Linked DNA regions of Homo sapiens: region 1 is linked to region 2. Evidence: fine-mapped expression QTL. A gene starts in region 2. The other region holds a variant in brackets. All regions are shown on one strand. Distances are between the middles of the regions. Region 1 has its middle 26 kb from the start of CAMSAP3. Region 2 holds the start of CAMSAP3 (calmodulin regulated spectrin associated protein family member 3).

Region 1 (10,476 bases), 26 kb after region 2:
TGGTGGCAGGCACCTGCAATCCCAGCTACTCGGGGGACCAAGGCAGGAGAATCGCTTGAACCCGGGAGGCGGAGGTTGCAGTGAGCTGAGATCGCGCCAGTGCACTCCAGCCTGGGGGATAAGAGGGAGACCTTGTCTCAAAAAAATAAATAAAATAAAATAAAATCAATCAATGGAATTGCCAAATTAAGAGATTAAACAAAGAAATACATGAAACATGGCTAATATCATACTTAATAGTAAGACTCAATGTTTTATCCTAAGATTGGAAACAAGGTAAGGATGTCCAGTTTTGTTTTGTTTTGTTTTTTTTTTGAGACAGTCTCTCTGTCGCCATGCTGGAGTGCAGTGGCGCGATCTCAGCTCACTGCAACCTCTGCCTCCCAGGTTCAAGCAATTCCCCTGCCTGAGCCTCCTGAGTAGCTGGGATTACAGGCGCGTGCCACCTTGCCTGGCTTCTTTTTTTTTTTTTTGTATTTTAGTTGAGACGGGGTTTCACCATGTTGGCCAGGATGATCTCGATCTCCTGACCTCGTGATCTGCCCACCTCGGCCTCCCAAAGTGCTGGGATTACAGGCGAGAGCCACCGCGCCCAGCCTGGTTTTTGTTTTGTTTTTTGAGACAGGGTGTTGTTGCTTTGTCCCTCAGGCTGGAGTGCAGTGGCACGATCTCATCTCACTGCAACCTCTGCCTTCCAGGTTCAAACGATTCTCCCAACTCAGGCTGCCAAGTAGCTGGGATTACAGGCACATGCCACCACACCCAGCTAATTTTTGTATTTTTAGTAGAGACGGGGTTCCGCATTGTTGGCCAGGCCGGTCTCGAACTCCTGACCTCAGGTGATCCGCCCACCTTGGCCTCCCAAAGTGCTGAGATTACAGGCGTGAGCCACCATGCCTGGCCAAGGATGTCTGTTCTTACTACCTCTATTCAGTATTGTATTGGAAGTCCCAGACAGTGCAATAAGGTAGGAAATGAAATAAAAAGCACACAGACTTGGAAAGAAGAGAAAGATGATAGCGAACATATATGAAAAGAAAGAAAAATAAAACATCATCTACACAAAAAATCAGAATGAATGTACAAAAAACCTACTAGATCCAGTAAGTGATTTAGTGAAGTTGTAGAATACAAGGTCTATATATAAAACTAAACTGTATTTCTACACGATAACAATGAATAATTGGGAATTGAAAAATTTAAAAATCAATATCTTTTTTTTTTTTTGAGATGGAGTTTGGCTCTTGTTGACCAGGCTGGAGTTCAGTGGCGCCATCTCAGCTTATCACAACCTCCACCTCCTGGGTTCAAGCGATTCTCCTGCCTCAGCCTCCTGAGTAAATGGGATTACAGGCATGCGCCATCACGCCCATCTAATTTTTGTATTTTTAGTACAGACAGGGTTTCTCCATGTTGGCCAGGCTGGTCCCGAACTCCCAACCTCAGGTGATCCACCCACCTCAGCCTCCCAAAGGGCTAGGATTATAGGTGTGAGTCACCATGCCTGGCTTTTTTTTTTTTTTTTTTTTTTTTTTTTTAGGACTAAGTCTCACTCTGTTGCCCCAGGCTGGAGTGCAGTGGCATGATCTCAGCTCACTGCAACCGCTGCCTCCAGAGTTCAAGTGATTCTCCTGCCTCAGCATTCCTGAGTAGCTGGAATTACAGGCACCTGCCACCACTCCTGGCTAATTTTTGAATTTTTAGTAGGACGGGGTTTCACTATGTTGGCCAGGCTGGTCTTGAACTCCTGACCTCGTGATCTGCTGGTTTCAGCCTCCCAAAGTTCTGGGATTAGAGACATGAGCTGCTGTGCCCAGCCGTGACTCCGTCTTTATAAAAAAAAAATTAAAAATGAGCTAGGCATGGTGTCGCATGCCTCTAGTCCCACCTACTTGGGAGGCAGAGGTGGGAGGATCGATTGAGCCTAGGAGGTGGAGACTGCACTGAGCTATGATCATGCCTGTGCACTCCCTCCCAGCTGGGCGACAGAGAGAGAACCTGTCTCTAAAAAAAAAACAAGAAACAAACAAAAGAACAGGGACTTGAACGTGCACAGAGTGGCAAGTTCTGCCGCTTGCCAGCTAGATGGCCTCGGGTTTAAGCTCTCCCAGACTGTTTTACCATCTTTGTATTCTACCTGATTTTAGTCCCTGACACAAAAGTTTGCTTTGTAATGTAAAGAAAACTAAGCAGGACTGGGGCAGTGGCTTGTCAGTAATCCCAGCGCTTTGAGAGACTGAGGCCGGAGAATCGTCCAGTTTAAGACCAGCCTGGGCAACATAGTGAGATCCCAACTCTGAAATAAACCAAACACAAAAATTAGAGATAACATAAAGATATCCTCACAGATGCACGTGAAGATTCGTACATATTCATCCCCTCGCCGGGCGCCGTGGCTCATGCCTGTAATCCCAGCACTTTGGGAGGCCAAGGCGGGTGGATCACCTGAGGTTGGGAGCTCGAGCCAGCCTGGCCAACATGGAGAAACCCTGTCTCTACTAAAAATACAAAATTTACCAGGCGTGGTGGCGCATGCCTGTAATCCCAGCTACTCAGGAGGCTGAGGCAGGAGAATTGCTTGAACCCGGGAGATGGAGGTTGCAGTGAGCTGAGATCGTGCCTTTACACTCCAGCAATAAGAGTGAAACTCCATCTCAAAAAAAAAAAAAAAGATATTCATCCCGGTTTCATTCATAACACTGAAATGTCAGAAACAACCATGATCACAGGATTAAGTTACTTGATAAATATAACCATAACCCCCCCCCGCCTCAAAACAGTGGCTGGTATACAATAAGTGTTCAATAAACATGAACAATGCTTGATATTCTGCCTAATTGATGTGACAAATATTTCCTCCCAGACTGTTGCTCTGCCTGTCTTCTGTTATGTTTTATTTTCTGTTTTGTTTTTGTTATTGTTTTTTGAGACAGAGTCTTGCTCTGTCGTCCAGGCTGGAGTGCAGTAGTGCGATGTCGACTCACTGCAACTTCCACCTCCCGGGTTCAAGCGATTCTCCTGCCTCAGCCTCCCAAGTAGCTGGGACTAATTTTTGTATTTTTAGTAGAGATGGGGTTTTGCCATGTTGACCAGGCTGGTCTGGAACTCCTGACCTCAGGTAATCCGCCTGCCTCGGCCTCCCAGAGTGCTGGGATTACAGGAGTGAGCCACCATGCCCGGCTTTCTGTCATTTTAAAGAAATATTTAGGCCAGGTGCGATGGCTCAAGCCCGTGATCCCAACACTCTGGGAGGTGGAGGTGGGCCAGCCACTTGAGCCCAGGAGTTCAACACCAGCCTGGGCAGAACAGTGAGACCCTGTCTCTACTTTTGTAAAATAAAAAATAATAAAATTTAAAAAGAGCCAGGCAAGGTGGCTCATGCCCGTAATCCTAGCACTTCGAAAGGCCAAGGCAGGCAGATTGCTTGAGCCAAGGAGTTTGAGACGATCCTGGGCAACATAGGGAGACCTCACCTCTACTAAAAATAAAAAAATTAGCTAGGCATGGTGGTACATGCCCTGTAGTCCCAGCTACTTGGGAGGCTGAGGTGGGAGGATCACTTGAACCCAGGAGGCAGAGGCTGCAGTGAGCTGAGACAGTGCCACTGCACTACAGCCTGGGTGATGGGATGAGACCCTGTCTCGAAAATAAATAAATAAGTAAAACAAAAAGAAATATTTAACAATTTCAAAACAGGATCATTTCTGGGGGCTTTAAAAATTATCAAATAAATTTAAAAATTATCACAATAATGCAATCTCATTGTTAAAGTGTCAAACAGTAGAAAAGTAAAAATATTGAAATTCTCCCCCTTAAATTCCCACCCTGATATTTCTTCCCAAGGAACTATCCTCCCAGGGCATCCCGTGCATGTACAAACCTGTGTGTCATGGACGGTCTTGGACG[T/C]AAATGTGATCATACTGTACACAATGTTCTATGACTCTTTTTATCCGTGGAGCAGAGTACCTAGGAATTTTTTTTATGTCAATAGCTATAAGTCTGTTTCATTCTTGTTAATGGCTTCAGAGCATTCCCGTAAGGTACTGTGCCCTAATTTATTAAACTATGCCTCTGTTGTCAGTCACTGAGACTGTTTTCCAATTTTCACTTTTATAAGCAACGGCATCATTGCAGAAAAGCGCTGTGAGGAACACACATCTTTAGACGCATGCGTTTATAGAGGATTGATTGTTGGACGAAACCCGGCTAGGTCAAAAGTTATGCGCTTTATATTTGTTGTTTACTGGGAGGCCAAGGCGGGCGGATCACAAGGTCAGGAGATCGAGACCATCCTGGTTAACATGGTGAAACCCCGTCTCTACTCAAAATACAAAAAATTAGCCGGGCGTGGCGGCGGGCGCCTGTAGTCCCAGCTCCTTGGGAGGCTGAGGCAGGAGAAGGGCATGAACCCAGGAGGCGGAGCTTGCAGTGAGCCGAGATCACGCCACTGCACTCCAGCCTGGGCGACAGAGCGAGACTCCGTCTCAAAAAAAAAAAAAAAAAAATTTGTTGCATGATGACAGTCAAATTCCCTTCCCCCTAAAATCTCCATAATTGACAGTTTCCCAGCCTAACACTGTGAAGATGTTTCTTATTCACCCAACTTTCAGTGTGACTGGATGTGTTAATATTTTTAGCATTTGCCAAATTAAGAAGTGAAAACTGGCCGGGCATGGTGGCTCACACCTGTAATCCCAGCACTTTGGGAAGCTGAGGCAGGAGGATCGCTGGAGCCCAGGAGTTCGAGGCCGGCCTGGGCAACAAAGTGAGACCCCCCACCCGCCTCCGCCATCTCACTTTGAAAAAATAAAACAAATTAGTCAGGTGTGGTGACAGGGGCCTGTAGTCTCAGCTACTGGGGAGGCTGAGGTGGGAGGATTGCTTGAGCCCAGGAGGTCGAGGCTGCTGTGAGATATGATTGCCCAATAGCACTCCAGCCTGGGCGACAGAGCGGTACCCATTCTCAAAAACAGCAAGAACACCAACAAAAACACCAAAAAGATAAAAAAGGAAATAATAATACTACCTATATCAAAGGGCTAAAAATTAAGTTATTTGATAAATACAACCCCCCCCAAACAATGGCTGGTATATATAATAGTAAGTGTTCAATAAACATGAACAAAGCTCGATCATCTGCCTAATTTATGTGACAAATATTTCCTTCCAGGCTATTGGCTTTGTTTGTCTTCTGTCTTTGTTAAGCATGTTTTCATGTCATCAAACGCTCTCATCTTTTCTTTCAAGGCACTGACTTGCAATAAAAGCAAATCTAGGACATTTAAATTGATTGCAGAATAAAAAACTGACTCTGGGCCAGGCACTGGGGCTCACGCCTGTAATCCCATTGCTTTGGGAGGCTAAGGTGGGCAGATCACCTGAGGTCAGGAGTTCAAGACCAGCTGGCCAACATGGTGAAACCCCATCTCTACTAAAAATACAAAAATTAGCTGGGCATGGTGGCTTATGCCTGTAATCCCAGCTACTCAGGAGACTGAGACAGGAGAATCGCTTGAACCCGGGAGGCGGAGGTTGCAGTGAGCCGAGATCAAACCACTGCACACCAGCCTGGGCGACAGAGTGAGACTTCATCTCAAAAAACAAAACAGAACAAAACAAAACAAAAGGAAGGAAATTGGGAAAAAAGAAGGGAGTATTAGCAGTGTTCACATCCAGGCGGTGGAATTCCTGTGACCTTTTCTTTTTTTACACTCTGCTTTCCATGAACATATATTTCCAAATGAACACATATTACCTTTATGTTTATGTTGCATTTGTTTTATAAATTTGTTCTAAGCACACAAGTAATAATTTGTTTGTGGGTTTGTTTGTTTGAGATGGAGTCTCACTCTGTTGCCCAGGCTGGAGTGCAGTGGTGTGATCTCAGATCACTGCAACCTCCACCTCCTGGGTTCAAGTGATTCTCCTGCCTCAGCCTCCCGAGTAGCTGGGATTACAGGCGACCACCACCACGCCCGGCTAAATTTTTTGTATTTTTAGTAGATACGGGGTTTCATCTTCTTGTCCAGGCTGGTCTCGAACTCCTGACCTCAAGTGATCCACCTGCCTCAGCCTCCCAAAGTGCTGGGATTACAGGCATGAGCCACTGCACCTGGCTGAAGCACACAGGTAATGATTTTATAATGAGAACAGTACTCCCTCCCCTCCCCTCCTTTCCAATAAATGTTAATTCTAAACGACAAAAAAAAAAAAAAAAAAAGCAGTAAGTCAGCCCACAGCTACTCGGTGCTTAACCCTCCCCTAGTCAGCAAAGCTCCACCCCGGAGCCAGACGCCTGAACGCCATAGCAGGACCGCCCCCTGGTGGCAGAAAAGTAAGAATCTGGTCCAGGTAGGTGTGTGCGTCAGTTTCCTCCTGCAAGGAGCTCTGTTTTGTTTTATCTTAGTTTTATTTTATTATTAATTTTTTTGAGACGGTGTCCTGCTCTGTCGCCCAGGCTGGAGCGCAGTGGCACGATCTTAGCTCACTGCAACCTCTGCCTCCTGGGTTCGAGCGATTCTCCTGCCTCAGCCTCCTGAGTAGCTGGGATTACAGGCGTGCGTCTCCACGCCCAGCTAATTTTTGTATTTTTAGTAAAGACGGGGTTTCACCATGTTGGCCAGGCTGGTCTCGAACTCCTGACCTCAGGTGATCCCACCCGTCTTGGCCTCTCGAAGTGCTGGGATTACAGGCGTGAGCCACCGTGCCTGGCCTATTTTATTTTATTAATGTATTATTCTTTATTAGAGACGGGGGGGGGGGTCTCACTATGTTACCCAGGCTGGTTTCGAACTCCTGACGTCAAGCGATCCTCCCACTTTGGCCCCCCAAAGTGCTGGGATTACAGGTGTGAGCCACCACGCCCAGCCTGTTTCCTTTTATTTAGATCACAGGTCGGGCATGGTGGCTCACGCCTGTAATCCCAGCAGTTTGGGAGGCCAAAGTGGGAAGATCGTCTGAGGTCGGGAGTTCAAGACCAGCCTCACCAACATGTAGAAACCCTGTCTCTACTAAAAATACAAAATTAGCCAAGTGTGGCGGCACATGCCTGCAATCCCTGCTACTCGGGAGGCTGAGGCAGGAGAATCGCTTTAACTCCAGAGGCAGAGGTTGCGGTGAGCTGAGACGGAGGTTGTGGTGAGCCAAGATCATGCCATTGCACTCAAGCCTGGGCAACAAGAACAAAACTCCATCTCAAAAAAATAAAAATAAAGATAAATTACAAAGCAACCCACTGGGACTAAAATTAGGTAGAATACACAGGTGACAAATTTGAGAATGGGGGAAGGGAAGCCCAAGGTCAGCTGGCTAGCAATGGGCAGAACCTGCCAATCTGTGCAAATGTAGGACCCTGATTTTTTTTTTCCTTTCTGGCAATAAAGAAGGAAAGGAAAATTCCCTGTTTTTTGCTTTTTTTGTTATTATTTTTGTTTCAGAGATAGGGTCTTGCTCTGTCACCCAGGCTGGAGTGTAGTGGTGTGATAATAGATCACTGCAGCCTCAAACTCCTGGGCTCAAGCAATCCTCCTGCCTTAGCCTCCCAAAGTGCTGGGATTACAGGTGTGAGCCGCCATGCCCAGCCTCTTATTTTTTTTAATTTGTTTATTTATTTTTTGAGATAGAGGCTTATTCTGTCACCCAGGCTGGAGCGTAGTGGCATGATCTCGGCTCATTGTAATCTCTGCCTCCCAGGTTCAAGCAATTCTCGTGCCTCAGCCTCGCAAGAAGCTGGGATTACAGGCACGCACCACCACATCCAGCTATTTTGTATTTTTAGTAGAGAAGGGGTTTCACCATGTTGGCCAGGCTGGTCTCCAACTCCTGGCATCAAGTGACCTACCTGCCTTGGCCTCCCAAAGTACTGAGATTACAGGCATGAGCCACTGTGCCTGGCCTAAACTTATTATTAATATTATTTTTATAAAAGGTTTTACTCTGTTGCCCAGGCTGGAGTGCAGTGGTGCAATTATAGCTCACTGCAGCCTCTAACTCCTGGGCTCAAGCGATCTTCTAACTTCAGCTTCCCAAGTAGCTGGGACTACAGAAGCCCACCCTCACACTCAGCTACTTTTAATATTTTTCATAGAGTCAGAGTCTCACTATGTCACCCAGGCTGGTCTTGAACCCCTGGCCTCAAGCGATCCTCCTGCTTTGGCCTCCCAAAGTGTTGGGATTACAAGTATGAGCCACTGCACTTGGCCTGGGTGGCCAAAAGATGTCCTACAGCCTGACCAGGTTGGTTCTTCCCTGTCCAACCTCTACATGGCCATTTCCAGACACTGGGCAACAAACACACCAAGAGGCTGGGTGCGGTGGCTCATGCCTGTAATCCCAGCATTTTGGGAGGCCAAGGCAGGCAGATTTCTTGAGGTCAGGAGTTCAAGATCAGCTTGGCCAACATGGCAAAACCCCATCTCTACTAAGAATTAAAAAGAAAATTAGCTGGGCATGGTGGCATGCACCTATAATCTCAGCTATTCAGGAAGCTGAGGTGGGAGAATCACTTGAGCCCAGGAGGTGGAGGTTGCGCTAAGGCGAGATCACACAACTGCACTCCAGCCTGGGTGACAGATAGAGACTCTGTCAAAGAAAGAAAGAAAAAGAGGAGAGGGAGAGGGAGAGGGGGAGAGAGAGACAGAGAGACAGACAGAGAGAGACAGAGAGAGACAGAGAGAGAGAGACCAAGAAAACACTCTTGAGAATGTGACTTTATCAGTCTCTTGGGTCCACACCTCGTGGCCAGCTCCTGTGGATTGCAGGACAGGGCCCCTGACCCTGAACCCAGGTCCTCACTGTAACCTCAAAATTTCTTGGCGCTAGCTGAGTCTCAAGCTCTGGAACCAGAGAGGGGTAGCCTAGAGAGTCCAGGAAGGTCCAGTTGAGGCTCAGTTCCAACTCTGTTAGTCAATAGTTTGTTTTTTGTTTGTTTTTATTTTAATTTTTTGAGACAGGGTCTCGCCCTATTGCCCAGGCTGGAGTGCAGTGGCATGATCATGGCTCACTGCAGCCTAGACCTCCCTTGGCTCAAGTGATCCTCCTACCTCAGCCTCCCTAGGATCTGGGATTTCGGGCTCACACCACCATGCCTGGCTAATTTTTTGTATTTCTGATAGAGATGGGGTTTTGCCATGTTGCCCAGGCTGATGTCGAACTACTGAGCTCAAGCAATCCACTCGCCTCGGCCTCTCAAAGTGCTTGGATTACAGGCGTGAGCTACTGCAGCCCAGCCTGTTGATCATTAGTGATGATCACCAAATATTTCCAATGCTCTCTCTTCTGGGCACATGGTAGGGCTGTTTTTTCCTGGCCACTTACAGTTGGGTAGGACCATGTGACTTTTTCTAGCCAATGAGCAGTGAGATAAAAGTATTGCATCATTTCTGGACCAGAGTATTTAATGATGGGTATGAGGCCTTCCAGAGATGTCTTTCCTCAGTCACAGTGACCCAAAACATTCCAGATAGTGACTACTTTTGTTTTAGAGACAGTCTCACTCTGTCGCCCAGGCTGGAGTGCAGTGGTGAAATCATAGCTCACTGCAGCCTCGAATTCTTGGGCTCAAGCGATTCTCCTGCTTCGACCTCGCAAATAGCCGAGACTACAGGTGCATGCCACTATGCTCAGCTGATTTTAAAAAGTTTTTTAGAGATGAGGTCTTGCTATGTTTCCCAGGCTGGTCTCAAACTCCTGGGCTCAAGCAATCCTCCTGCCTCAGCCTCCCAAGTAGCTGGGACTATAGGCATGAGCCACTGCACCCAGCTCAGAAATTACTTTTGTATTGTTTTTGCCCCCCAAGACTTTGGTGTTATTTGTTACAGCGGCATAACCTGACTTGTCCTGCCTGATCCATTACACCATCCACATCATGGCAGCTGAGTCTAGCCAAGGGCTTCTATGTTAATTTGCTAGGATTCACTGTCACAAAGTTCCACAGATGGGGTGACTTCAGCAACAAAAACGTATTGTCGGCTGGGTGAGGTGGCTCACGCCTGTAATCCCAGCACTCTGGGAGGCTGAGGCAGTTGGATTGCTTGAGCCCAGGTTCAAGACCAGCCTGGGCAATATGGCAAAACCTTGTCTCCATCAAAAATACAAAAATTAAGCCAGGTGTGGTGGCATGTGCCTGTGGTCCCAACTACCAGGGAGGATGAGGTGGGAGGATGGTTTAAGCCTGGGCGTGGTTGCAGTGAGCTGAGATGGCGCCACTGCACTCCAGGGTGGGCAACAGAGCCAGACCCTATCTCAAAATAAAACAAAACAAAATCAGAGAGAAAGAGAGAGAGTGGGAGTTATCTCAGGGATCTTTGCTTCGTCTTTGGAGCTTGATGTCATTCGACATTTACTGAGCACCTACCATGAGCCAGGTGCTGTTCTATGCAAGGTTCTTCCAGTGATGGAACTTATATTTAAGTGTGTCTTGCAGAGACAGATGAGAAACAAGTAAGCAAGTGAGGCCTGATGTGATGGCTCGTGCCT
Region 2 (10,476 bases):
AATGTGAGCCCAATGAGCCGTCAAGTTTCCTAGAAGCCACATTACATATGTAGAAACAATAAGAATTTAGTAATATATTTCATTGACCCAAGACATATCCCACTCTTATTTTAACATGTAATCAACATAAAAATATTATTCATAAGATATTTTACACTGGTTTTTGTTGTTTGTTTTTGGACCAAGTCTTTGGAACCCTGAGTATATTTTACATTTACAGCACATCTTGGTTCTGATCAACCACATTTCAAGTGACTCAGTAGCCACATCTGGCTGGTGGCCACCATATTGAATAGCACAGGTCTACAACATAGCTAGGATGGATGGATGGATGGATGGATAAATGGATGAATGGGTGGGTGAATGGATGGATGGATGGATAAATGGATGAATGGGTGGGTGGATGGATGGATGGATGGATAAATGGATGAATGGGTGGGTGGATGGATGGATGGATGAATGGGTAGGTGGATGGACAGATAGATGGATGGGTAGATGGGTGGGTGGGTGGATGGGTGGATAAGTGGATGGGTGGGTGGGTGGAAGGGTGGGAGGATGGGTGGGTGGGTGGATGGATGGGTGGATGGAAGGGTGGGTGGATGGGTGGGTGGATGGATGAGTGGGTGGGTGGATGGATGAGTGGATGAGTGGGTGGGTGGATGGATAAGTGGGTGGGTGGATGGATGAGTGGATGAGTGGGTGGGTTGGTGGATGGATGAGTGGGTGGGTGTGTGGGTGGATGGATGGGGGGTGGGTGGGTGGATGGATGGATGGGTAGACGAGTGGGTGGGTGGATGGGTGGATAGGTGGATGGGTGGGACGGTGGGAGGGTGGGTGGATGGATGAGGGGGTGGGTGGGTGGGTGGATGGATGGATGGGCGGGTGGATGGATGAGTCGGCGGGTGCATGGATGAGTGGGCGGGTGGACGGATGGGTGGATGGGTGGGTGGGTGGATGAGTGGGTGGGTGGGTGGATGAGTTGGTGGGTGGGTGCGAGGGTGGGAGAGTGGGTGGGTGGGTGGATGGATGAGTGGGTGGGTGGATGGGTGGATGGATGAGTGGGTGGGTGGGTGGGTGGAAGGATAGATGGGTGGGTGGGTGGATGGACGGACGGATGGGTAGATGGGTGGGTGGGTGGATGGGTGGGAGGGTGGGTGGGTGGATGGGTGGGAGGGTGGGTGGGTGGATGGCTGGGTGGGAGTGTGGGTAGGTGGATGGATGGGTGGGTGGATGGATGGATGGGCGGGTGGATGGATGAGTGGGCGGGTGGATGGATGAGTGGGCGGGTGGATGGATGAGTGGGCGGGTGGATGGATGGGTGGATGGGTGGGTGGGTGGATGAGTGGGTGGGTGGGTAGGTGGATGAGTTGGTGGGTGGGTGGATGGATGGATGGGTGGATGGGTGGGTGGATGGATGGGTGGATAGGTGGATGGGTGGGTGGGAGAGTGTGTGGGTGGGTAGGTGGGTGGGTGGATGGGTGGGTGGGTGGGTGGATGGATGGGCGGGTGGATGGATGGGCGGGTGGATGAGTGGGTGGATGGATGAGTGCGTGGTTGGATGGATGAGTGGGGTGGGTGGATGGATGAGTGTGTGGGTGGATGAGTGCGTGGGTGGATGGATGAGTGGGGTGGGTGGATGGATGAGTGGGGTGGGTGGGTGGGTGGATGGATGAGTGGGGTGGGTGGATGGATGAGTGCGGTGAGTAGGTGGGTGGGTGGATGGATGGATGGATGGATGGATGGATGGATGAATGAATGGGTGGGTGGAAGGATGGATGAGTGGGTGGATGGATGGGTGGATGGATGAGTGCGTGGGTGGATGGATGAGTGGGGTGGGTGGGTGGGTGGGTGGATGGATGAGTGCAGTGGGTAGGTGGGTGGATGGATGGATGGATGAATGAATGGGTGGATGGATGGGTGGATGGATGGATGAGTGGGTGGATGGATGGGTGGATGGATGAGTGCGTGGGTGGATGGATGAGTGGGGTGGGTGGATGGATGAGTGGGGTGGGTGGGTGGATGGATGAGTGCAGTGGGTAGGTGGGTGGGTGGATGGATGGATGAATGAATGGGTGGGTGGATGGATGGATGAGTGGGTAGATGGATGGGTGGATGGATGGATGGAAGGCTGATTGAGACAGGATCTCACTCTGTTGCCCAGGCTGGAGTGCAGTGGCGTGATCATAGCTGACTGTACCCTGGAACTCCTGGGCTCAGGCAATCCTCCTGCCTCAGCCTCCTGAGTAGCTGGGACTACAAGCCCATGCCACCACACCCAACCATTTATTTATACCATGACCTTCCCTGCATCCAGTCATTTAATCCTTACGACACTTATTATTATACCCCTTGTACAGATGAGAAAACCAAGGCCTGGAGAGCTGAGATAACTTGTCCAGGATAAAAATGTCCAACATGAACTTGAGTTTCCCTCACACATCACACATCTGTTCTGAAGGCATAAAGAACTGCATGGGGTGTTTTCCAAATGTGTTTAACATGGAACCCTTTGTTTTTTGAGACAGAGTCTCTCTCTTTCACCCAGGCTGGAGTGCAGTGGTGCAATCTCGGCTCACTGCAACCTCCGCCTCACAGGTTCAACAATTCTCCTGCCTCAGCCTCCCAAGTAGCTGGGACTACAGACGTGTGCCATCATTCCCGGCTAATTTTTGGATTTTTAGTAGAGACGGGGATTCATCGTGTTGGCCAGGCTTGGAACCCTTTCTTATCTAATCTCCAAGCTTGTGTTCTGCTTTTATTTCTGCACAGCCTTCTCACACCTGTGCCTTGGAGTTGCCAGAACTATCCCTTCCTCTGAGCCATCACTACTCCCACGGGGCCACTGCATACCTGATCTTGTCAGTTCCCAACACTGTCCGTGGCTCCCCAGTACCCTTGGATCCATAACCAGGGGCCTGAAGGGCCTTCCTCAGTCTGACCAGCCTCCCTTATCTCCCACCGCCACCCCGGGGACCTGCATCTTATTCTCTGAGAACTCCCTGCTGGTCCACACTCCGAGCCTTTGCCCACTGCCCACACATCTCTTCTCCGTGTCAAACTTCCATGCATCCTTCCAGACTCAAATCTTTCCACCTGTGGGATCTCTTCCCTCCCTGGAAGATTTCAAGAATTTCTTTCCCCAGGCCCCGCTGGCCAGCTTCCCTATGATCTGGTTTCCTGCCCATCCCCCTCTGCCCCATATCCATCCCCTGCCGTCTCCTCTACACCCTGAGCGCCCAGCCCAGCACCTGATAGGTATCATACCGTCAAGAGTCCCCAGAGCTCATGAATCTTGTAGAACTCTGCTCCCATTTCCTTCAGCCCTTCTCCTCTTTTTAGGGGAGTGGAACAGGGAACAGATTGAACTTGACCCTCACGGTAGAGGCAGCCACTGCCGTGTGTCACACAGCAGAGGGAGCTGGGTCAACAAGAACAGAACTGGGTGAGTCAGGGCACTGGGAGCTCACCAACACCCCTCATCAGAAGTTTGCTTTGCTGTCTTCAAAATGGGATAATTTCTACTCTGATTCCTGGCCAGGGGATAATGGATAACGTTAATATTATTCATCAAAATATACCACCGCCAATCACACCAGCAGCGAGCAACCGTTTCGCATGTATCACGCGCCCCGTGCCACGCGAAGAATTCTGTGGTCACTACAGCTTTTACGCCTCCCAGCAACCTTGCAAAGAGGTAACGGGGGGTCTCCATCACTGGAGCAGTGCCCTACACATAGCAAGTGCCCCTGCCCCACAAACATTCGCAAAACAGATAAGTCTGTGAATGAACGCCTTCTTTTATAGAAGGGGAAACAGAAGCTCAGATAATTGGGATAATTCGCATTCTGGTGCAGCTGGACTTCACATTCAATTCTGACACTCCACGTTGAGTTCTCTACAGCCTGGTAACCTTGGAAGTGAGGAGCTGGGGCTGTCCTGGCTGTCCAATGCCCAATCTCTTTCTTCCTCAAGCAAATATCTGCAGGGAGGTAGACCCCAGAGTGGGAAATGCATGCATGGAACGACGCAGACAGAGACTGTCTGGGAGAAAGAGGGACAGGCTGGGGCGGAACCAGGAGACGGACAGCTGTCACTGAGACCCACACCCAGAACAGGTTGATCTGGGAAGGCCAGGGAGAGGGGGGATGGGCTGTGCCAACACCAGTGGGCAGAACCAGTGGGAGAAAAGGATGTACCCCCACAGCTCCCCGCTGGAAAGCCCAGACCTTAATTAACCCCTGTCTTCTCTGGCCAGGCCCTGACTCCTAGCTCTGGCCTGGGGTTGTGAAGCTGCCCAAAGCCGAGACTGAGTGTTTCCAGGGCCTCTAATCCCGGGGACCCGGGATTACGGCATCCTCCCCATTAGGGTGGCTCGGGCTCTCAGGCAAGCGGGCCTGGGGGAGGGAGTGAAGGATCTGCTCTAATGGGAGAAGGCCCCGCAGCCGGGAGGAGCGGGGGGCCCACCCCAGGCGATCTTGTACTACCCATTTCCCTTCAGCTGGGCTCGCCAACCTCCCCAGTAAAATGGGGCCATAAGTCGCAGCTGCCAGGCGCTGGAGGGGGCTATGGAGGCGAAAGGGGGTTCCCAGAGCTCCCCGGTCGCCGCCCGCAGCGCGGCCAGGGCCGACGCGGGGTGTGTGTTGGGGCCTGGGGGTCGTGCGGTGGTGGAGACCGGAGCGCTCGAGACCCCCCAGCGAGGTCGGGGTCTGGGTCTCCAGGGTGTGTGGCGGGGGAAGAGACCGAGAGGAGATCCTCGCAGGGGCGTGATGTGTGTAAAAGAGAAGAAGGCGTGCAAGGGAAGGCCTTGGGGGTGCGGGAGGCGGGAACGAGAGGTCCGCACGGGGAGACCCCACCCGGCCCGCAGACCCCGCCCGGCTCACCTGGAGGCTTGGACGCCGGGGACCCCCGCGCGGAGCTGGGCCGCGGGCCCCACCCCCACCGCGCTCCCGCAGCCGGCGGGGCAAAGTCCACCGCCCGGGCCGAGCAGGAAGCTCGGAGGCCCCGGCGCGGCAGGGGCCCGAGCCCGGGGACCCCCGGCGGCCGGCGCTATTGTTCCCACGGCCCCCTGCCTTCCCGGCCCGGCGCCCCGCCCCCCCCCAGCACCTGCCGCGCCCGGCCCGCCGCCCCCGACCCCGGTCCCCCGAGCCCCGGTACCTGCGCCCCCGAACGCGGCCCGCAGCACCCACGCCAGGCTGGCCGCCGCCTTGGCCCGCGAGAAATCGTACTGGTCCAGCGACTTGATCTCGGGCACTAGAAAGGTCCTCCGCAGCGGCCCGGGCCCGGGGGGCGCCGCCTCCACCATGGCGGCGCCGGGGCTGCGGGCGCCGGGTCCGCGCTCGGACTGGGCTGGGCTGGGCTGCGCCGCGCTCGCGCCCCAGCCGGGCCCGCTGCTGCTACCGCCGCTGCCGCCGCCGCCGCCGCCGCCGCTGCTGAGCCAGGTGCGGCCGCTTGCGCTGGCGACGCTGCGTCGGGCCCGCCCCGGGGAGGAGCCCAGGTGCGCCCCGCCCCCGAACCCGGACCCGGACCCTGGCGCGCCCCTGCGCCCCGCCCGGGCCCCTCACTGCAGTGTGCACGGAGCAGCAGGGGCGGGGCGGAGGGGGGCGGCCTGGACTGCGGCGATGGTGGAGGGAGCTTGCGGAGGACTGAGTGTGTATGTGTGCGCGCGCGCGTGTGTGAGTGTGTGCGCGCGCGCCTAGCTTACTGGAAAGGATTAGGGACCCTCTGTGTGTGCCAGCCCCAGTGTCTACCCTTAGGCGTAGGAGCTCCTGCAAGTGCTTGCAATAAACGCCGGCCCTCAGGCAGAGAGTGGTTGGGTGCACCTGTTTCTGATTATGTTAGTGAAGGCACAAGAATATGAGTGTCTTCGTATCTGTGTATCTCTGAATACATTTGGGTGGTGACCAAGTGTATTGGGGGGTGTCTAGGGGTGTGTGTGTGTGGGGTATGTATCTGGGCACGTGTAAGTGTGTGTTTAATTTGTTGTGTGTACAAGGATATGTATTATATAGATGTCTGTATCCTGAGGATGGATGGAAGTGATGAGTGTGTGTCTGTTTTTTGTTTTTGTTTTTGTTTTTGTTTTTGAGACAGGGTCTCACTCACTCTGTCTCCCAGGCTGGAGTGCAGTGGCGCGATCTCGACTCACTGCAACCTCCGCCTCCCAGGCTCAAGCGATTCTCCTGCCTCAGCCTCCCGAGTAGCTGGGATTACGGGGTTGCGCCACCACTCCCGGCTAATTTTTGTATTTTTAGTAGAGTTGGGGTTTCACCATGTTAGCCAGGCTAGTCTCAAACTCCTGACCTCAGGTGATCACCCGCCTCAGCCTCCCAAAGTGCTGGGATTACAGGCGGCAGCCACCGTGCCCGGCTGTGTGTGTGTTTTTGGAGTGCTGTGAGTATGTCTATCTCTGTGCATCTGAACGTACTGGTGTGTTGTATGAGGCTGTTATTGATGCCTCTGTCAATGCAGGAGTATGGAGAGACATTGAGAGTGTGTGTATTTCAGGCCGAGAGCGGTGGCCACGAGTGTAATCCCAGCACTTTGGGAGGCCAAGGCGGGCAGATCACTTGAGGCCAGGAGTTCAAGAGTAGCCTGGCCAACATAGCAAAACCCCGTCTCTACTAAAAATAAAATTTTTAAAAATTAGCCGGGCATAATGGTGCATGCCTGTAATCCCAAGTACTCGGGAGGCTGAGGCGGGAGAATCGCTTGAACCAGGGAGGCAGAAGCTGAGATAGTGCCACTGCACTCCAGCTTGGCCAACAGAGTGAGACCCTGTCTCAAAAAAAAAAAAAAAGTGTGTATATTTCTGCAAGAGTGTGACTATTTGTGTCTATGAGTGTCCTTGCGTAGCTGTACTGGGTGTATTTGCAAGTGTCTTTGTGTATTATTCTGGTATCTGCAGTGTGTGCTGGGAGAAGGCTCTGTGTGGAGGTGAGGCTGTGTGTCTAAGTGGGTTTGTATTTGAGTATGTGAATCTGGCTATATGCACATGGATGTGTGATTGATTGATTGATTGATTTTTTGAGACGGAGTCTCGCTCTATCGCTCAGGCTGGAGTGCAGTGGTGCGATCTTGGCTCACTGCAAGCTCTGCCTCCTGGGTTCATGCCATTCTCCTGCCTCAGCCTCCCGAGTAGCTGGGACTACAGGCACCCGCCACCACGCCCGGCTGGTTTTTTGTATTTTTTTTTAAGTAGAGACCGGGTTTCACCATGTTAGCCAGGATGGTCTCGATCTCCTGACCTCGTGATCCGCCCAACTCGGCCTCCTGAAGTGCTGGGATTACAGGCTTGAGGCACCGCGCCCAGCAGATGTGTGATTTATGATGAGCAGTTCCTGACTATATTTTTGTGCATATATGTGTGTTTATATGTGAGTATCTTTGTGGATTTGAATATATGGTGGGTGCCTGTGACAGATTGTGTAGGCATGAAAGCAGGTATACCTGTGCAAGAATGCCTGTTTCTGCTGGGTGCAGTGGCTCATGCCTGTAATCCCAGTGCTTTGGGAGGCTGAGGCGGGTGGATCACCTGAGGTCAGGAGTTCAAAACCAGCCTGGCCAACATGGTGAAACCCCATCTCTACTAAAAATACAAAAGTTAGCCGGGCGTGGTTGCCCACACCTATAATTGCAGCTACTTGGGAGGCTGAGGCAGGAGAATCGCTTGAACCCAGGAGGCAGAGGTTGCAGCAAGCTAGGATTGCACCACTGTACTCCAGCATGGGCGACAGAGTGAGACTCCGTCACATTAAAAAAAAAAAAAAGAATGCCTGTGTCTGAATGCTTTTGTGAGAGTTCAAATGTGCATATTTATCTAGGAATTCATATCTGTGTAAGCAAATGTATTTCTGTGTATGAATCTGATTGTGTCTGTAAGTATGGAAGTGTGTGTGAACGCGTTGAGTACAAATATTTGTGTACATGAGTGCAATTGTGTGTTTATTTGTAAGGTCTAAGCACCGATTTGTGGATTTTTGGTTTTTTTTTTTCTGTTTGTTTTTTTTTTTTTTTTTGAGACCGAGTCTCGCTCTGTCACCCAGGCTGGAGTGCAGTGGTGCAATCTTAGCTCACTGCAAGCTCCGCCTCCCGGGTTCGCGCCATTCTCCTGCCTTAGCCTCCCCAGTAGCTGGAACTACAGGCGCCGGCCACCATGCCCAGCTAATATTTTGTATTTTTAGTAGAGACGGGGTTTCATTGTGTTAGTCAGGATGGTCTTGATCTCCTGACCTCAGGTGATCCACCCGCCTCGGCCTCCCAAAGTGCTGGGATTACAGGCATGAGCCACCGCGCCCAGCCGGATGTTTTTAATATTTTAATATTTGCTTTTGTTCTATTGTTTGTTTTGTTGTTGTTGTTTTATTTTTTTTTTGGACAGGATCTCACTCTGTCACCCCAGGCTTGAGTGCAGTGGCACAATCATGGCTCACTGCAGCCACCATCCCTGGCTAATTTTTTGTTTTGTGTAGAGATGGGATCTCCTTATATTGCCCAGGCTGATCTCAAACTCCTAGGCTCAAGGGATCCTCCCACCTCGGCCTCCCAAAGTGCTGGGATTACAGGCATGTGCCACTGTGCTTGGCCCTCCATTGTATTTTTGTCAAAATATCCCCTGCATGCCTCTTAGCTGTATATAATTGTGAATGCACAAGTGTTTGTGTGAGTTCGTTCTTTACAGGCCTGGAAAGAAAAGTGTGTTACTTTCGGCCAGGCACGGTGGCTGAAGCCTGTAATCCCAGCACTTTGGGAGGCCGAGGCAGGTGGATCACTTGAAGTCAGGAGTTCAAGACCAGCCTGACCAACATGGTGAAACCCTGTCTCTACTAAAAATACAAAAATTAGCCAGGCATGGTGGCACATGCCTGTAATCCCAGCTACTTGGGAGGCTGAGGCAGGAGAAGCGCTTGAACCCAGGAGGCAGAGGTTGAAGTGAGCTGAGATCTTGCCACTGCACTCCAGCCTGGGTGACAGAGCCAGACTCTGTCTCAAAAAAAAAAAAAAAAGAAAAGAAAAACGTGTGTTACTTTCAGAACACACACACACACACACACATACATAGGCACCTTGTCACCTTGTGAACAGGAATAAGTGCTCACAGACTCACACAAATATTCACAAATTCACACAAATGTAAATGTCAGCTTCATGCACACAAATGCACTCAGAAAGTGATACGTAAAAAGATAACATACAGGCCGGGCACAGTGGCTCACTCCTGTAATCCCAGCACTTTGGGAGGCTGAGGCAGGTGCATCACCTGAGGTCAGGAATTCGAGACCAGCCTGGCCAACATTGTGAAACCCCATCTCTACTAAAAATACAAAAATTCCCTGTGTGTGGTGGCTGGCGCCTGTGATCCCAGCTACTCAGGAGGCTGAGGCAGAAGAATTGCTTGAACCCAGGAGGCAGAGGTTGCAGTGAGCTGAGATCGTGCCACTGCACTTTAGCCTGGGCGAAAGAGCAGGACTCCATCTCAAAAAGAAAAAAAAAAAAAAAAGACCGGGCCCAGTGGCTCACGCCTGTAATCCCAGCACCTTGGGAGGCTGAGGTGGGCGGATCACCTGAGGTCCGGAGTTCAAGACCAGCCTGACCAACATGGAGAAACCCATCTCTACTAAAAATAAAAAAAAAATTAGCCAGAGGTGGTGGTGCATGCCTGTAATCCCAGCTACTTGGGGGGCTGAGGCAGGAGAATTGCTTGAAACCAGAAGGCAGAGATTGCGGTGAGCTGAGATTGCACCACTGCACTCCAGCCTGGGCAACAAGAGCGAAACTCCGTCTCAAAAAAAAAAATAAATAAATAAATAAATAAATAAATTCCAACACTTTGGGAGGCCAAGGTGGGCAGATCACCTGAGGTCTGGAGTTCAAGACCAACCTGACCAACATTGAGAAACCCCATCTCTACTAAAAACACAAAATTAGCCAGGCATGGTGTCGCATGCCTGTAATCCCAGCTATTCAGGAGGCTGAGGCAGGAGAATCGCTTGAACCTGGGAGGTGGAGGTTGCGGTGAGCCAAAATCGCACCATTGCACTCCAGCCTGGGCAATGAGAGCAAAAAAACTCCGTCTCATAAAAAAAAACAAAAACAAAACGCTATGAAATGGAAAGACGCTGTGGCAAGGTGGTCTCCAAGACCCTTGACCCCGGATGGTGGCCCCAGAGCTAGCTCTTTGTTGAAATGGCACGTGTGTTTGGGGCGTGGGTCTCATGGTCCGGAGCATGTGAGCAGGCATGGGGGTGGGTGTGCCGAGGGAGGGGAGCTGGGGCGTGGGCCCTCCTGTCTGGATGTGCCCGTGCAGGAGTGGGTGTGGGTGCGCAAAGGGGCCAGTGTCTGTGTGTGTGAGCACAGGTGCTGATGTGGATGACGCATGCCCCGGCTCCTGTCCCAGTCCCCTCGAAGGACCTAAACAAGGTCTTTTCCCCACTGGACCTCAGTTTCCCCATCTGGAGACCTGGGGTTCCTGGCCCGGGG

What was found.
Region 1: its variant is fine-mapped to the expression of CAMSAP3 in unexposed skin (GTEx, PIP above 0.99).

Annotation. Positions count from the first base shown.
Region 1 is chr19:7,564,401-7,574,876 of GRCh38, reverse strand. No RefSeq gene overlaps it. Among named protein-coding and RNA genes, the nearest start is that of CAMSAP3, 26 kb to the left of the region's middle. The variant T/C (reference allele first, on the strand shown) is at 3,907.
Region 2 is chr19:7,590,829-7,601,304 of GRCh38, reverse strand. It overlaps CAMSAP3 (calmodulin regulated spectrin associated protein family member 3), which reads right to left and starts at 5,442. Exons shown (of 17, transcript NM_020902.2): 1 at 5,155-5,442. The coding sequence starts at 5,302. RefSeq lists an enhancer at 3,858-4,463 and silencers at 5,303-5,742, 7,806-8,006.